Homo sapiens: one gene and its partners. The protein of the gene in region 3 interacts with the protein of the main gene of each other region in a pairwise test. Each region holds a gene or a part of one and is shown on either strand. Other genes may lie near its edges.

Region 1 (2,631 bases), on a different chromosome or scaffold from region 3:
CATGATTTCTACCTTAAGTCTCTTAGATTTGCCTTTTATCTTTCTTCTTTCCTTTGCTCCAGAGTTCATGTCTTAACCACCATACCTTATTAATAATTTATAATTTGTATAGAATGCTCACATGGTTTCTTACTGCTAAGTTTCTTTGAAAGTGTATTAACCTTGAAAAGCAGTGTAGGTATTTTCCTACCCTCCTGTGGGTCCCAATATAAACCACAAGTGTGGGCAAACTTTAGATTGTTCGGATTATTGAGTTGTTACTAATAAGCCAAACGGAAGCATTTCAGATGATATGCTGTTTTGTTTTTTTTCCTTGTCACTAGGTTCCACTAGCACAGTCAGTTTACTTTAGGTTTATGTCTAATGGTAAAATTGAAGAGCTCTTCAGTGACATTTGAATTGAAGAAAATAGAGTTTATTGGTTGATCTGTTTTATTGGTGATTTTTTTTTCTCCTAGGGATCCTATCTGTAACTAAAAAACCACCACCAGTGGATGGCACTCTTGGCTTTTTCCACAGTGATATTAATTCGAGTAGTTTGTTCTGAAGTAACCGTTCTGGACCAAAACATTCTAGTTTTTGGAAGACTATGGTCATGAACAAATATTCAGTCCTTGGTGGATAATTTTATAGTTACAAGAATCTTTTGGAATTATAAAGGAAATGCAGTCATTCCTCCATGTCCCTTGTTTCTGCATCTGTGGATTCAACCAAGCACAGATTGAATATATGTGAAAAAAAGAAACCAATAAAAATAATACAACAACAACAAAAATACAAGTGAAACAATACAGTGTAACAGCTGTTAACATAGCATTTACCTTGTATTAGATATTGTAAGTAATCTAAAGATGATTTAAAGTATATAAGAGGAAGTACATAGGTTATATGTGATTACTATACCATTTTATATCAGGGACTTGAGCATTGTGGATTTTGGTATCTATAGGGGTCCTGGAACCAGTCCCCCAATGGATACTGAAGGATGACTACTACTTGCCTCTGTTCTTTTGTTTATTTTTAGCTAACTCCCTCTGGAACAGCATTTTAAGAGCAACGTCTGATATTTTTGGATAAAAATGCTAACTCTGTGATGTTGATTCATAAAATGTTCCCAAGAATTGGTATATTAAAATTATTCTGGGCCAGGTGCGGTGCTCATGCCTGTAATCCCAGCACTTTGGGAGGCCAAGGCGGGCAGATCACTTGAGGTCAGGAGTTCAAGACCAGCCTGGCCAACATGGTGAAACCCTGTCTCTATTAAAAATACAAAAGTTAGCCAGGCATGGTGGTGCACACCTATAATCCCAGCTACTGGAGAGGCTGAGGCAGGAGAATCGCTTGAACCCAGGAGGCAGAGGTTGCAGTAAGCTGAGATTGCACCACTTCACTCCAGCCTGGGTGACAGAGACTCCATCTCCAAAGGAAAAACAAAAAGTTATTCTGTATTGTAATTTAAAAATAAAATTTCTTCTATTTGAATTTTTAAAGTTAAAAACGTAAGTAAATCCTGTCATTGCTAACAGGGCCACATATGGACTCTTACTCTTTCCTCTAGACCCCCAGAGTGTAGAATGTGATACACTTTTGTCCTTTTCTCTGAGGATGTGCTGCCTAGTGTCGTGGAATCTGCCTGACCATTGCAAGCATCCAATTTTGTGACCAGTTCTTTTGCAGGAAATTGTTTCTGAGAAGACTGGAAGACAAGAAATATCCCACCTCTTCTAACAAGATCTGAATTGTTCGAAAAGCAGCCAGTGCCTAACTTGTAGCTCCACTTATGCCAACTGTATATATACCTCTCGTGAGCATAGCAAGTGATTTAATATTTTGAAAAGATGGCTAAAATCCTTTTAATGAACAGCACTAAAGTTATATGTATTAGAGGAGAATTATTGAATGAGATGGAGAAAGAGTTCTGAAATTAATATTTACATTTTGGCTTTTTTACAGATAATATTATATTTCTGAGTGACCAGACGAAAGAGAAGGAGTAGAAAGGATGATTCTTCTTTGGCCATCATTTGGTACAGTCTCATTTCCAAGTCATGTATAATCTTTATGGCTTCCAAGGACAAGAATTAAAATACTCTTTTACGTAAAATGAGTAATAATCTTTTTTCTGACTGTCGTTCTCGCTCTCCTTTTTGTGGTATAATCTTGGTAGCTACTATCTGTTATGGCATTTACTAGTTGTTTATTCTTCTAAGGGTGGTTTCTATGTACAGGTATACAAAATAGTAAACTTTCAGGCTCATTTGTGTTATGGCAAAGGGATAAATATGCTTTGGGAAGGTCTCCTGGTTTTTGTATACACTTTTATTACAATATTGATTTGTCCAATCAGTGAATTTACTGAGCATCACTGTATGTGAGACATTTATCCCATATTTGTAAATATTGATTTTCTTAACGTTTTGCTCTGTAGACATGAAGGCAAGGACTGAATCTTCTGTTTGCCTGCACTTTAAACCATGCTTTACATAGAATAGCCACTCAGTAAGCATTGATAGATGAATCATCCCAATGGGATTCTAAGCTTCAGCTCAAATTGAAGGGAGTTGCTGAGCAGTGGTTAGTGTCTAACCTAAACATCTTTAAGACTAACCTACCTTCTTCATATCTTTTGTT
Region 2 (7,000 bases), on a different chromosome or scaffold from region 3:
TGTCCCCCTAGGCCTTCGATGTGGTGGAGAGGAGCTTCCTGGAGTCCATTGACGACGCCTTGGCTGAGAAGGCAAGCCTCCAGTCGCAATTGCCAGAGGTAATTTCCCCAGCCGACACCCAGGGGAGTCAAGTCCAGGCCCAGCTTTGCAAGGAGCATGGACTCATCTACTTTCTTGACATTACTGGGCCAGAGCAACAGGCGTTAGGGAGCAGTTCCTGATGGGTGACACTGGTGTGTGGCCACAGGTGAGGGACCTCGCTGCTCTGCTGTGGGCAGCTGCATGCTAAAGCTCAGCAGTGTCTGGGCAGTGGTGGACATGAGGAAGGGCTTTTCCCAGTCCTTCGTCCTGAATGGGTCCCCGCCCTTGTCAACCACCTGCTCACATCGCCTACTGCCACCTGCAGCGCTTACCTCTGTGCTGTGAGTTCGGTCATCTCCAGCTTTCTGGAAGAACCTTAGCCTGGAGCTGTAGCGAAGGCTTCATCTTGGCTGTGCCATGGACCATCTGTCTGTCTGTCCCCCGGGCCCTCGGATCTTTGCTCTTAAGAGCAAAGGGAGGCCGGGCATGGTGGCTCACGCCTGTAATCCCAGCACCTTGGGAGGCCGAGGCGGGCGGATCACAAGGTCAGGAGATCAAGACCATCCTGGCTAACATGGTGAAACCCCGTCTCTACTAAAAATACAAAAAATTAGCTGGGCGTGGTGGTGGGCGCCTTGTAGTCCCAGCTACTCTCGAGGCTGAAGCAGGAGAATGGTGTGAACCTGGGAGGCGGAGCTTGTAGTGAGCCGAGATCATGCCACTGCACTGTAGCCTGGGGGACACAGCGAGACTCCATCTCAAAAAAAAAAAAAAGAGTAAAGGGAGTGGAGAGGGCTAGGAAGATGGTCCAGAGTTCTGTCCTGCCCTGACCCTCTGTTGATGGTTGTAGGGAGTCCCTCAGCACCAGCTGCCTCCTCAGTATCAGAAGATCCTTGAGAGACTCAAGACGTTAGAGAGGGAAATTTCGGGAGGGGCCATGGCCGTTGTGGCGGTCCTTCTCAACAACAAGCTCTACGTCGCCAATGTCGGTGAGCCCCCTCCTGTCCCAGGGCAGGGAGGACTGGGGAGAGGTCAGCCACAGGGGTCGGTGCATTATTTGACAATCTGCTTTCCAGACACTTCACGCACTTTAAACCCAGGGTCTCCTGAGACCGTTGGGTATGTCCCTCTCCACAGTGACGCCTCAGTCCCAACTGGAAGGGAGAAAGGACGGGATGGGAGACAGGTGTCCTGGCCTTTAGTCCCTATTCTGCTTCTTAACTCATTCTGGACGAGTCGTATCCCATTCTGGGTGGCCTTGGGGGCCGCTGCTTCTGGAAGAGGTTACCTGGCCATGAATAACCAACCAGTATCCCCATGAACAGCTGCGAGATGGGGCTAGGTGACAGGGACATTGGGGTTTGTGAGAAGACCAGACAGGTGCAGGTTTCAGTAGAAAGGACTCTGTAGAGACCCTTCTGATGATGCTGCCTTTTTTTAATACTCCAGTGGAAAATTTTCCACAATATAGAACAATAGAGTGACTGATATTTAATGAACATTCATGCGCCCATCCCCAATCCCAGCAGTTATCAACTGTGGCCAGCCTTCTTTGTCCCCACGTTCTCTATTTTGAAGCAAATGCCAGACACTGTATCATGTTATCTGTAAATATTTCAGTCTGTATCTCTAGAGAAGAGGTCTGTTTTATTAAGATCATAATCCTATGATTACACTGAAAAAGTTAAACCCAATTCTTTCGTATCACCAGCTGTCCCTAACTGGTGACTCACCCCGTTGGTCTGAGCCTGTTTTGCCCATTTCAGGTATTTCCATGTGTGAAATGCCTGCCTTTTCCCTCTCTGCCTTCCCGGTATGCCCTATTTCTCTCTGTGTGTAGTCTTTGCTTAGCTGTTCACATTCTGCCACAGGTACAAACCGTGCACTTTTATGCAAATCGACAGTGGATGGGTTGCAGGTGACACAGCTGAACGTGGACCACACCACAGAGAACGAGGATGAGCTCTTCCGTCTTTCGCAGCTGGGTGAGTGGGGAGAGTGGGAGCGGAAGCTGATCCCCATGGGCTCACCCTTCGCCTGCCTTTGGTGGTGGGGTAGAGAGGCGTGTGGTAGAGGGGCTGTGATCTTGGGCTCCCCAGCCAGCCTGCCTGGGGTTCATTCCCAGCACTGCCGCTTACTGGTTGGTGATTGGAACTTAAGTTTTCTGTGCCTCAGATCCCCCGCTGTGTAATGAGGATAATAGTAACCTACCTCGGGATGCTAGGAGGATTCAGTTAGTGCATGTGAAATGCTTCCTGGAGTGCCTGGCACACAGAAGACACTTACTGTTATTGGTGGAGACTGAAAGAGGCCAAAGAAGTCCAGGGAGCCCAGCTGCTGCTGAGCTGCTCCTTCCCTTCCCAGTGAGCTCCAGGCAGATGTGGGGCACACGGGATGGGCAGGGAGACGGCAGGCAAGCTGCTCCGTGCCAGGTGGTGCCTGGAGGACGGGCTCTGAGTGAGGTGTGTCGTGATGGGCGTGGGGACTGAGGACACCAGGGACTTTGGGTCAGCTGCTCTCCCAGGTGCCCTGGTGTTGTCTTCATTTCCTATTCAGTGGGTCCTTATTGCCTTCTTCCCATGACTGTGTCTCTGTCCCCTTCTTTTTGTTCCTCTTTGTGAACAAGAAGCAGGATTGTTGCACTGTTTCCCTCCGTAGGCTTGGATGCTGGAAAGATCAAGCAGGTGGGGATCATCTGTGGGCAGGAGAGCACCCGGCGGATCGGGGATTACAAGGTTAAATATGGCTACACGGACATTGACCTTCTCAGGTAGGTGCCAGCCCAGCTGTCCCCTGTGCTTGAAAGAACAGAAGGTCCTAGGGAGGCCAAGATGGGAGGATTGATTGTGCTGGGAGGTCGAGGCTGCAGTGAGCCGTGATCATGCCACTGCACTCCAGCCTGGGCAACAGAGCAAGACCCTGTCTCAAAAAAAAAAAAAGGTCCAGAAGGCCTGGGGCAGACGCAGACTGTAGGCCCCAGTGACACATGTGCAGTCAAAGTAGTTCAGAGCCCAGGCAAACTCTTTCTTCCTCCCAGAGAGGTTGGTTTGGGGCAGGTTAGGCCCAGCAGGCCAGGAGTTGGGTACTGTAGAAACAAGGGGTGGAGTTGAGCTGGGCCAAAGCTGAGGGCAGCAACTAGTGCCACAAGGGAGGCAGGCGAAGCCAGAGTTGGCATGGGATGGACAGACCAGGCCTGTTGGTCGGTGCTGCCCATGGCTGCAGCAGAGGTGTGAGATGAATTGTGTATTTCCCTCTGAGGACACCTCCTCTGGACATCACCCCAGCGCTCATGGCAGCAGAATGGGCAGTCATCATCACACGGCCAAGCCCGTGCAGAGCTCTGGATGTACCTTCTTTTATGCATTCCCTACTCAGGCCCCCTGAGGCAGTCACTGCCATCACCCCAGAGGCATTTTCATAAGAGGAAACTGAGGCATGGAGACATCAGGCAGCCCACCCTGGTCATGGGGCTTGAACACAGGCAGCCTGAATTTGGAATATGTGTCCTTAACCGTCAGGTAACCTGTATGTGAAGTGTTGGTTGGGGAGATAGGCGCGTCCACTTGCCTGATGCCAATCATGGCATTTAATGTCATGGCCAAGGCTGTTCCCAAAGCCAGAGTTCCCATCAACAGAGGCCTCATGGCCTAGAAAGTGCATGTTAGAACTCCTTGCCCTCACGCGATCTAGGCAACTGAGTGTCGAATATTTGTCCCTAATTTGTGGGGTCCTGTTTCCTTTATTGGAAAGGACATCCATAGTTTAAAACACTTCAGACAGTGCTGGGGTCTATACAGGGAAAGGAAGTCTTCCTACACCACACTCTAGGACTCGCTGCCTCCCCAGAGGCTGCTAGTTTCTTGTGTATCCTGTTCCAAAATCTGGCCACATGCACATATACACACACGGTGTCTCTGTGTGTGTGTGTGTGTGTGTGTGTGTGTGTGTGTGTGTGTGTTTGTCCTGGGGGCCAAGGAGCCTGCATCCTTTTCGGAACACCCAGGTGCTGGGGTGTCTCTCTCTGTGTGTGTGTGTGTGTGTGTGTGTGTGTGTGTGTGTGTGTGTGTTTGTCCTGGGGGCCAAGGAGCCTGCATCCTTTTCGGAACACCCAGGTGCTGGTGTGTCCTGCCCCTCCCAGGTGCTGGTGTGTCCTGCCCCTCCCAGGTGCTGGTGTGTCCTGCCCCTCCCAGGTGCTGGTGTGTCCTGCTCCTCCTTCTTTTCTTTTTTTTTAAACCCTAAGGTGTAATTGGCATATGCAAAGCTGTGCCTATTTCATGCATACAACTTGATGAGTTTGGAGATATGTTTACACACCCCTCACTGCTATCATTAAAGGTGCTCATCTCTTCATTCTGCTCACCTGCAGTTAGGATGGCGTCATTCTGTGTAATAACCGCTCCCAGGGCCCAGCCCTGGCTGACGGACCCTCAGGAAGTTCTTAGACTCCGCTCTTCTGGATGGTGTTGCCAGCACCTCCTCATGTACTTACCTCCATGTGCACACACATGTGTTGGCATGTAATGACTCTGACCCCAGTCACTAAAGGATCCCTGTACACATGGAGAGTATCTGGGGTCTCAGCCATCTGTTTTGGAAAAGCCCAAATAATAGCAAGAGGCTTGGGCTCCCAGGGATAATCCCTCCCTCTTGCTGTCCCACACCCTGCCCTGCCACCACCGGACCCTGTGAACAGGACGTATGGAACAGGCCAGAATCGGGCATTCAACCTTTGCCATCCTGACCTCAGCTGCCTGCCAGTTTTTATGGCCTTCCAAGCTTTATTTTAGCAGCTGCTGTAAGACGATGGGTCTATTTTTCTGACCTTCTCTTTCTCTCTTTTCTTTTCCTCTTGTCAGGTTGTGTGTTTTATTTTACATTCTGGGCATAGATTCCTCCCCTCAGCAGAATCAGCATCCACCTGCGGGCTGTTCCAAGCAAAGCTCTTCCTTCCACTCTCTCCCCATAGCGCTGCCAAGTCCAAACCAATCATCGCAGAGCCAGAAATCCATGGGGCACAGCCGCTGGATGGGGTGACGGGCTTCTTGGTGCTGATGTCGGAGGGGTTGTACAAGGCCCTAGAGGCAGCCCATGGGCCTGGGCAGGCCAACCAGGTGAGTTGGGCCCAGCCACGCCCATGGCCGGAGAGCGTGGCTGGCCTGCATGGTGATGTGCTCACCCTGCCTTCTAGCACTGTGATTCTCGGAGGCCGTCACCAGACATCTCTGGGTTCAAAGCTGGGGGAAGGAGAATCCCAGAGCTCTGAAAACACCCATCCCACCCAAAAACTTGACTCATTTTAGGCTTGAAGCAGTGCCAGTCCTCAGGGCCTGAGCAAGGTCTGAAGGGAAGAGGGGGAGATGGATGTGAATTGCTATGGGCACGGCATTACTCTGAGACGGCCAGGAAGGGGCCAGGGCCAGGAGGAGAGCACAGAAAGAGATGTGCAGAGTCCTTCCCACACCCATCACTTCCTGCCAAGGGCCTGACGGCTTTACTGCCCTCCCTGAGTGGCAGACAATTTATAGTTTGCTTCTCATTTCTTTTTTTTTTTTTTTTTTTTTTTTTTGAGACAGCGTCTCCCTCTGTCACGCAGGCTAGAGTACAGTGGCATGATCTCGGCTCACTGCAATCTCCGCCTCCCGGGTTCAAGCAGTTCTCTGCCTCAGCCTCCCAAGTAGCTGGGATTACAGGTGTCTGCCACCACGCCCAGCTAATTTTTGTATTTTTAGTAGAGACAGGGTTTCACCAGGCTGGTCTCCAACTCCTGACCTTGTGATCCACCCACCTCAGCCTCCCAAAGTGCTGGGATTACAGGCGTGAGCCACCGCGCCCGGCAGTTCACTTCTCATTTCTACAGTGAGGATGGTAACATCTGCCTTTGTGAGATCGCAGTGAGGTTAGGCGTGGTAGACACAGGCCCTCAGCCAAGAGTTGCTTATTTTTCTTATACCTTGGAGTCACCAAAGTGTGACTTCAAGACAGTCACGTTAGGGATGGTCTCAAAGGAAAACTGTCTTTCCCTGACCTCCTTGGATTGCTGACTGGCTAAGATAAGTTCAGTTTGTGTTCCTCCTCCTTTCTGTGATTCTTGTAGGAAGATAACCTTTTCTGCTTTGACTTTTTTTTTTTTTTTTTTAAGACTTGCTGTGTCACCCAGACTGGAGTGCAGTGGCGTGATCACGGGTCACTGCACCCTCAACCTTCTGGGTTCAACCGATCCTCCAGCCTTAGCCTCCTGAGTAGCTGGAACTATAGGTGTGTGCCACCACACCTGGCTAATTTTGGTTGTTTTCTTTGTTTTGTTTTTTTGGTAGAGACAGGGTCTCACTGTATCGCCCAGGTTAATCTCAAACTCCTGGTCTCAAGTGATCCTCCTACCTTGGCCTCCCAAGATGCTGGGATTGTAGGCATGAGCCACTGTGCCCAGCCTGCTTTGTCCTTTTTAATTAAAAATCATGTATTGGCCGGGCACAGTGGCTCATGCTTGTAATCCCAGGACTTTGGGAAGCCGAGGCAGGCGGATCACTTGAGGTCAGGAGTTCGAGACCAGCCTGGCCAACATGGTGAAGCCCCGTCTCTACTAAAAATACAAAAATTAGCCGGGTGTGGTGGCAGGCACCTGTAATCCCAGCTACTCAGGAGGCTGAGGCAGGAGAATCGCTTGAACCCGGGAGGTGGAGGTTGCAGTGAGCCAAGATCGCACCACTGCACTCCAGCCTGAGCAACAGAGCAAGACTCTGTCTCAATCAATCAATCAATATCATGAGGAAAAAGTCTTCTTTAAAATTTGAAAATTAATTTTTATTTCAGTAGCTTTTGAGGTACCAGTATTTTTTTGTTATAGGGATGAATTATGTAGTGGTGAATTCTGAGATCTTAGTAAACCAGTTATTCCAGTAGTGTACATTGTAAGTAATGT
Region 3 (7,478 bases):
GAGACGGAATCTTGGAGTCTTGCTCTGTTGCCCAGGCTGGAGTGCAGTGGCGCGATCTTGGCTCACTGCAAGCTCCACCTCCCAGGTTCATGCCATTCTCCTGCCTCAGCCTCCTGAGTAGCTGGGACTACAGGTGCCCGCCACCACGCCTGGCTAATTTTTTGTATTTTTAGTAGAGACGGGGTTTCACCGTATTAGCCAGGATGGTCTCGATCTCCTGACCTCGTGATCCGCCCGCCTCGGCCTCCCAAAGTGCTGGGATTACAGGTGTAAGCCACCGCGCCTGGCCTTTTTTTTCTTTTTTGAGACCGAGTCTCGCTCTGTCACCCAGTCTTGAGTGCAGAGGTGCGATCTTAACTCACTGCAGCCTCCGCCTCCCAGGTTCAAGTGATTCTCTTGCCTCATCCTCCCCAGTAGCTGGGACTACAGGCAGGCGCCACGCTGTCGCATTGGCCAGGCTGGTCTCAAACTCCTGACCTCAGGTGATCCGCCCGCCTTGTTACCCAGGCTGGAGTGCAGTGGTGTGATCTTGGGTCACTGTAGCCTCCACCTCCAGGGCTCAGGTGATCCTCCTGCCCTAGCCTCCCGAGTAGCTGGGACTACAGGCACATGCCACCACAATGGATCAAAGGAAACTTTGTGGCTACTAACTGCTCAGGAGTGACAGTGGCTTCATGTGGCAGAAGGAGCAGTGACTGTTTCTAGGGGCACCAGGAAACTTGATTGGGGAGGTGGTTACACAGGTGACTATATGTGTCAAAACTCATTGAACTATTCCATTAAAATCTGAACCCTGAGCAGGGGCTCACACCTATAATCCCAGCACTTTGGGAGGCCAAAGCAGGTGGATCACTTGAGTCCAGGAGTTTGAGAACAGCCTGGACAACATGGCGAAACCCCATCAGTACAAAATAATACAAAAATTAGGCAGGTGTGGTGGCACACTCCTGTAGTCCCAGCCACTCAGGAGGATGAGGTGGGAGGATCACTTGAATCTGGGAGGCAGAGGTTGCAGTAAGTTGAGATCATACCACTGCACTCCAGCCTGGGCGACAGAACAAGACCCTGTCTCAAAACAACAACAACAACAACAAAATCTGAACCTTTTATTTAATGGGAAAAATACCTCAATGAAATAACAATTGGGAAATAAACACATTAGTTATTTAAAACCGAAAAAAGACACACAAATATTACCGTGGCCAGGCCTGTAATCACAACATTTTAGGAGACCAAGGTGGGAGGATCGCTTGAGCCCAGGAGTTTGAGACCAGCCTGGGCAACATGGTGAGACCTCCTCTCTAGGAAAAAAAAAAAAAAAAAAAAAAAAGCTGGGCATGGTGGCGTGCAACTGTAGTCCAAGCTACTCCAGAGGCGGGAGGATTCCCAAGCCCAGGAGGCCAAGGCTGCAGTAAGCCATGATCACAGAGAGAGCCAGACCCTGTCTCAAAAAAAAAAAAAAAAAAAATTATTGCACAACTAATGAGAAAGATAACACAATTGAATAAGAACTCATCAAGGGCTGGATGCAGTGGCTCATGCCTGTAATCCCAGCATTTTGGGAGGCTGAGGTGGGTGGATCACTTGAGGGCAGGAGTTCAAGACCAGCCTGGCCAACATGGTGAAACCCTGTCTCTACTAAAAATACAAAAATTAGCCATGAGTGGTGGCACATGCTTGTAATCCCAGCTACTCAGGAGGCTGAGGCAGGAGAATCACTTGAACCTGGGAAGCAGAGGTTGCAGTGAGTCGAGATCGTGCCACTGCACTCCAGCCTGGGTGACAGAGCAAAACTCTGTCTCAAAAACAAACAAACAAACAACAACAACAACAACAAAAACCCATCAAGGATGCAATCAAGGATGCAGATCTGTTACCAGAAAGGAGTCAGGACTTCAGGCTAATAATAGAGTGAATGGAAAGCTTTGGCCAGTCAGCAAAGGCACGTTGGGACTTGCAGCATGTTGGCTGCATGTGAAGTTACATCCAGCCACAGTGAAGCGATCACTAAAAAGTTGAGTTCCTGGGAAACACGGTACACAGCATGAGGCGTCAGTAATGTGAGGAGTGTGTTCTTTAGAATGGTCAATAATGTTAGAATGATGGAGTTCACCATTCAAGGGAACATTCTCGGGAACTAACTGAGCTGCGCTGGTGGTGTGATCACCGGACACCCTGCTGTCCTCTCTGTCCGTGCCCATGACATGTCCTTGGCACAGACACCCCTGTGGAGCCCAGGGCCTGGCCGCTTCCTTGGCTGAGAAGCTGTCCCTGTCTAGGCCTCAGTTTTGTCTTCTGCAGAATGGGGGTGCTTGCAGCTCCCACTGAAATGCAGCTGCAAGCCTCCCTCTCTGAGCTCACGTCCCTAGGAACTGGTCCCCCACCTTGGTGCCTTGGAGTGTGTGGGGAGGGGGCAAGAGGCTGGGGGCCTGGGACAAAGAGGGTGGAGGATGGTTCTGGGTCTGGTGTCTCCACCCAAACTTTCCACTGCCAGCCTGCCTCTGCCCAGGCCTCTCAGCAGCCTGCTGGGTGGGGCAGGAGTGCAGGAGTTGGGTGGGGAGTGGAAAAGGTCCAGGAGGGCTGCTGCATTGCTAGGAGTGGTTTATTTTTATTTATTTATTTGTTTGTTTGTTTATTTATTTTTGAGATGGAGTCTTGCTCTGTTGCCCAGGCTGGAGTGCAGTGGCGCGATCTCGGCTCACTGCAAGCTCTGCCTCCCGGGTTCATGCCATTCTCCTGCCTCAGCCTCCCGAGTAGCTGGGACTACAGGTGCCCGCCACCATGCCCGGCTAATTTTGTTTTGTATTTTTAGTAGAGACGGGGTTTCACCGTGTTAGCCAGTATGGTCTCGATCTCCTGACCTCGTGATCCACCCGCGTCGGCCTCCCAAAGTGCTGGGATTACAGGCTTTATTTTTATTTTTTGAGACAGAGTCTAGCTCTGTCGCCCAGGCTGCAGTGCAGTGGTGTGATCTCGGCTCACTACAACGTCCGCCTCCCCAGCTCAAGCAATTCTCCTGCCTCAGCCTCCCAGGTAGCTGGGATTACAGGTGTCCACCACCACACCTGGCCAATTTTTTGTATTTTCTATAGAGAAGGGGTTTCACCATGTTGGCCAGGCTGGTCTTGAACTCCTGACCTCAAGTGATCCACCTACCTTGGCCTCCCAAAGTGCTGGGATTACAGGCGTGAGCTACCATGCCCAGCCAGGAGTGGTTTCTGTTCAGCTCCCACACCATCCCTGCCTTTCAGAAACAGATTTCAGTCCTGCCCGCCCCCCCCCCCCCCCCCGCCTCCCCCAGTCTACTTCCCCAACCCTGGATTCTCTTCTAGAGTCTTGGGCCCAAGCGGGCTATATTGGGGCTGGCGGGAGGGTCCCCACCTTGCTCTGCTTTTGATCTAGGTGGTGATGGAATGCTAGGCCACCCACCACCCTAAAACCCACCTCATCCTGACCTGCAAAATTGGTGGGAAGATGGTAACAGTCCTGGAAGGAGGAACAAGAGAGACTTGAAGGAGAGAAGTGGGACAGGAATACGCGGTAGACAGTTATAGACAGAGACAAACAGAGCCAGACAGCCAGCCCCAGAGACAGAACCCACAGGAGAGGCACGCCCAGAGGTGAGGAAAGGCAGAGGTTGGGGCAATGGGTCCTGCCCGGCTTGTGGAAAATCACTTCCCATCCCAGCCTCAGCCTCCTTCTCTGTACAATGGGGGTGACCCATGCTTCTCTCTGTTGGAATGGTGGGGTCCCAATCAGTGATTTCCTGCATATCCTGGGCAGCCCAAGGGCCTGGGAAATGACAAGCGTAGTCCTAGTGGATCCCCTCCTTTCACCCCTCCTGACTGAGGACTTCCCATGAACCCGGCACACTCCAGGACCCAGGGGTGCAGCACTGAGCCAACCAGGCCGCCCTCCGACCCTGTGAAGTCCCCCTGTCTGGCACTATCGTCGTTGTTGTGGCTGCTGTTCCACTGGAGACTTAGAAGCAGGGATTTCAGCGCAGACATTTCCAGTCTAGGCAGGAGGTTCTCAGCTGGAGAGAAGGGTCTAGAGTTCCCGCTGGGCTTGGCTTCTCAGGACCCAACATGTCTGTGGATAAAATGAGCATGAGAGACTCTCCTGTGTGCCAGGCAGTGGGAAGACAGGGGTGGAGGGGCGGTGGCTCTTATTATCAGCTCCTAGGAGAGGGGCAGTGCACCCGGGCTCTGGGTGATGGGGGGATCAGGGCCCCCAAGAAGAGGCGCCACTCCCACTTCGCCAGGCTTGCCCCAGGGCCAGGGTCCGTGCCAGGTGTGGGTGGTGGGTGGGAAGGGGTGGGGTGAGTCATCAGGGCCAGCCCCGCCCTGCTTTTATTTAAGGTCCCCAGCAGGCCCCACCACCACGGCTGCCCAACCCGGTCCCAGCCATGTCCGTGAGTGCTCCAGGGGCCCGGGGCGGGGCCAAGCAGGGAGGGGGCTGGGGGCTCCTCTTTCAAAGGAGCAAGTGGGCAGTGAGTGTGCCACGGACTGGCCTGGGCTGTGGCCTCCGGGTAACCCCCATCCCGACTGTCCCCTCTACCTCTTTGTGGCTTCCTCTGGGGCCCTCTTTGAGGATCTTTCTGTTTGTCTTTGTTGCTCTCCCCATCTGTTTCCCTGTCTGTTTCTGGTCTCTTTCCTGCCTCTCCGCCACCCTTTCCTCTTCCACTGATTTCTGCCAGTCTCAGCCCTGGTCGGCTCCTCTGAGGGGTGACCCACCTTCTGCCTCCCTCCTTCGGTCTCACCGGCTCACAGTGGCCCCTGCACCCCACTCTTGCAGAACGTCCCCCACAAGTCCTCACTGCCCGAGGGCATCCGCCCTGGCACGGTGCTGAGAATTCGCGGCTTGGTTCCTCCCAATGCCAGCAGGTGAGGCCCCAGGCCCTAGGGGTAAAGGGTACAGGTCTCAGGATCAGCTGACTCCCAATTTTTGCAGTCCAGAAGTAGGGGCCCGAGGCCACCTGTATCCACCAGGCTAGGAGTCCGAGGCCATTTCTGACCTCAAATCTGATGTATTCGTATTTGCCCCCGTGCCTTTGTGGCTGGGGTCCCTAAGTTTCCCTAAGCATTTGAGGTCCCTGGGTAATCTCAGGGTTCCTAGATATAGTCCTATGACTTCCATGTCTGAGTCCCAGGGAACTCTGGAAATACTCCAAGTCCTGGAGACACCCTGGACCCTGGGAGTCCTTGCCAAGCCATCCTTTGACTTCCTGGCTAAGGAACTTCGGGCCTTCTGGATTCTGAGGTACCCTGGAAATACTGGGGTTCCTGGTATTATTCTTTGTCCTGTAGAAGCTGAGGGTTCCCTGAGCATCAGGAGCACCCTGGCTATCACCCAGACCTCCTGGGCAGCTCCCAGGCTCTTTGGAAATGAGGGCACCCTGCCCTAAGCGTAGTGAGTTTGGTCTGGGTAGGTTTCTGCCAAGGGCCTCATGATATTTTGGCTGCCTTGGGAATCTAAGCTCCCTGGTCATTAGTCGCCCACCTCTCCTTCTGCGGTGTGTGCCTGTCTTCAGGTCCCTGTTAATTTGGGGGTACTCTGGGAATGGGGAGTGCCAGCCCATAAGACCTTCACTTTGGTCTGGGCGGTTTATGTTTTGTTTGTTCTTTCGTTTTTTTGTAAGGTGGGGTCTCGCTATGTTGCCCAGGCTGGTCTTTAACTTCCGGGCCCAAGCGATCCTCCCTTCTCCACCTCCCAGAGTGCTGGGATTACAGGGTGAGCCACTGCACCCAGCCAACATTTCATTTACTTATTCATTCAAAGTAAATTGTAGACATCGGTATTCCTCACCCTCAACATTTCTTGGTCTGGGTGGTTTCTGAGCCCTGACGGCCACCATCCCCCTCTTCCAGGTTCCATGTAAACCTGCTGTGCGGGGAGGAGCAGGGCTCCGATGCCGCCCTGCATTTCAACCCCCGGCTGGACACGTCGGAGGTGGTCTTCAACAGCAAGGAGCAAGGCTCCTGGGGCCGCGAGGAGCGCGGGCCGGGCGTTCCTTTCCAGCGCGGGCAGCCCTTCGAGGTGCTCATCATCGCGTCAGACGACGGCTTCAAGGTGCGTCTCTGCGACAGGGGCGTGGACGCCAAGACTTAGGTCCCTGGAGCAGAGGGTTGGGCAAAGCCAGGCTATTGGTGGAAGGCAGGGAGGTTCGGGGCGGGGTGAGGGGGGTAGGGAAGTCGTGGCCAAGGCGGAGAAGGGTGTCCTTCGACCCTCTCTCTCGCCTAAACAACTCCCACTTGGGTCCGAGGGACAGAGAGACAGCAGGGTCAGGACGAGGCGAGCACCAGCCAAGTGTCCAAGGGGTGGGCGTCCTAGCGGGAAGGCGTGGCCCAGACTCGCCATCCCAGACCCTACTCCCAGTTCATTCCTTCCTGAGGTCCGGGGTTTGAGGCATGGGGAGGGATGGGTTGGAAACAGCGCCCAGGAACTCGTCCTAGCAAGGATTGGCGGGTGGGAGTGGCGGCAGATCCTCCACCACCCACAGCTTACGCGAATTCACCTCCCTCCTCTGCGCTTTAATAGCGGGTAATGGTCGCTGAAATGAGAATATCCATTACCAGCACTAAAAAAGCCGCTTTTTACTGTGCCACACAGTCAACTCGTTTGATCCTCACGCAAGAGTTAGAATGAACAATAGCCCCATTTTCCCAGTGAGGAAACTGAGGCCCAGAGGGGATGAGTGATTTCCCCAGGGCCACCCAGCACGGGCCTCCGGAATCCTCACCACCGACCCTCCCCTGCAGGCCGTGGTTGGGGACGCCCAGTACCACCACTTCCGCCACCGCCTGCCGCTGGCGCGCGTGCGCCTGGTGGAGGTGGGCGGGGACGTGCAGCTGGACTCCGTGAGGATCTTCTGAGCAGAAGCCCAGGCGGGCCCGGGGCCTTGGCTGGCAAATAAAGCGTTAGCCCGCAGCGCGACTGTGTCTGTGTCCCATTCACTGAGATGAGCAAACTGAGACCCAGAGAGGCCAAGATACTGGCTCCGGGCCACACAGCGAATCCGAGGCGGAGGCGGGCTCTGAGCCTGCCTGTGCTTAGGACACTTTCTGTCTGCGAAGGCGTGAGGGTCGCGATCTGGGAAGGAGTGGGTGTGGGGCGTGCCCTGACGCAGCATTTGTGCAAAGCAAGCCAGCTGGGAATGCGGTCGGGCGGACCTGCTGGCGTTTGGGGCGCAGAGGCGCTCACCGCAGGTCCTGGTGCCCCCACTGCAGATCTAAGGGGCGCCAACATGGGTCCATCTGCAAAGGGGGCGAATGAGTCCCACCTTTCTGGTCATTTGTGGGCCCCAATCCTACGGGTGGAAAGCGTGTTATAAGATCCCGGGTCCCTGGGTCCCGTATCCCCCTGCAGCTCATCTCTCCCACCCTCTTCTCTCCTGGCCTCCCGCCCCTAGAGACGTCCCAGGTGGGGCTGGGAAGCCCGACGGGCGTCTCCGGGCTCCCGCTGTTCCCCGAGTCGGG

Evidence for each region.
Region 1: the proteins of LGALS7B (region 3) and SSBP1 interact in binary tests that used the Homo sapiens proteins (3 or more experiments, as listed by UniProt).
Region 2: the proteins of LGALS7B (region 3) and TAB1 interact in binary tests that used the Homo sapiens proteins (3 or more experiments, as listed by UniProt).

The regions. Positions count from the first base shown.
Region 1 is NC_000007.14:141,748,358-141,750,988, forward strand, and holds the end of SSBP1 (single-stranded DNA-binding protein, mitochondrial precursor), read left to right. Parts: intron 1-1,953; coding exon 1,954-1,997; 3' UTR 1,998-2,131; downstream 2,132-2,631.
Region 2 is NC_000022.11:39,416,780-39,423,779, forward strand, and holds part of TAB1 (TGF-beta-activated kinase 1 and MAP3K7-binding protein 1), read left to right. Parts: intron 1-11; coding exon 12-98; intron 99-931; coding exon 932-1,070; intron 1,071-1,952; coding exon 1,953-2,066; intron 2,067-2,739; coding exon 2,740-2,851; intron 2,852-5,047; coding exon 5,048-5,192; intron 5,193-7,000. UniProt on the Homo sapiens protein: Key adapter protein that plays an essential role in JNK and NF-kappa-B activation and proinflammatory cytokines production in response to stimulation with TLRs and cytokines.
Region 3 is NC_000019.10:38,784,819-38,792,296, forward strand, and holds LGALS7B (galectin-7), read left to right. Parts: upstream 1-4,381; 5' UTR 4,382-4,408; coding exon 4,409-4,414; intron 4,415-4,797; coding exon 4,798-4,886; intron 4,887-5,870; coding exon 5,871-6,072; intron 6,073-6,761; coding exon 6,762-6,875; 3' UTR 6,876-6,936; downstream 6,937-7,478. UniProt on the Homo sapiens protein: Could be involved in cell-cell and/or cell-matrix interactions necessary for normal growth control. Pro-apoptotic protein that functions intracellularly upstream of JNK activation and cytochrome c release.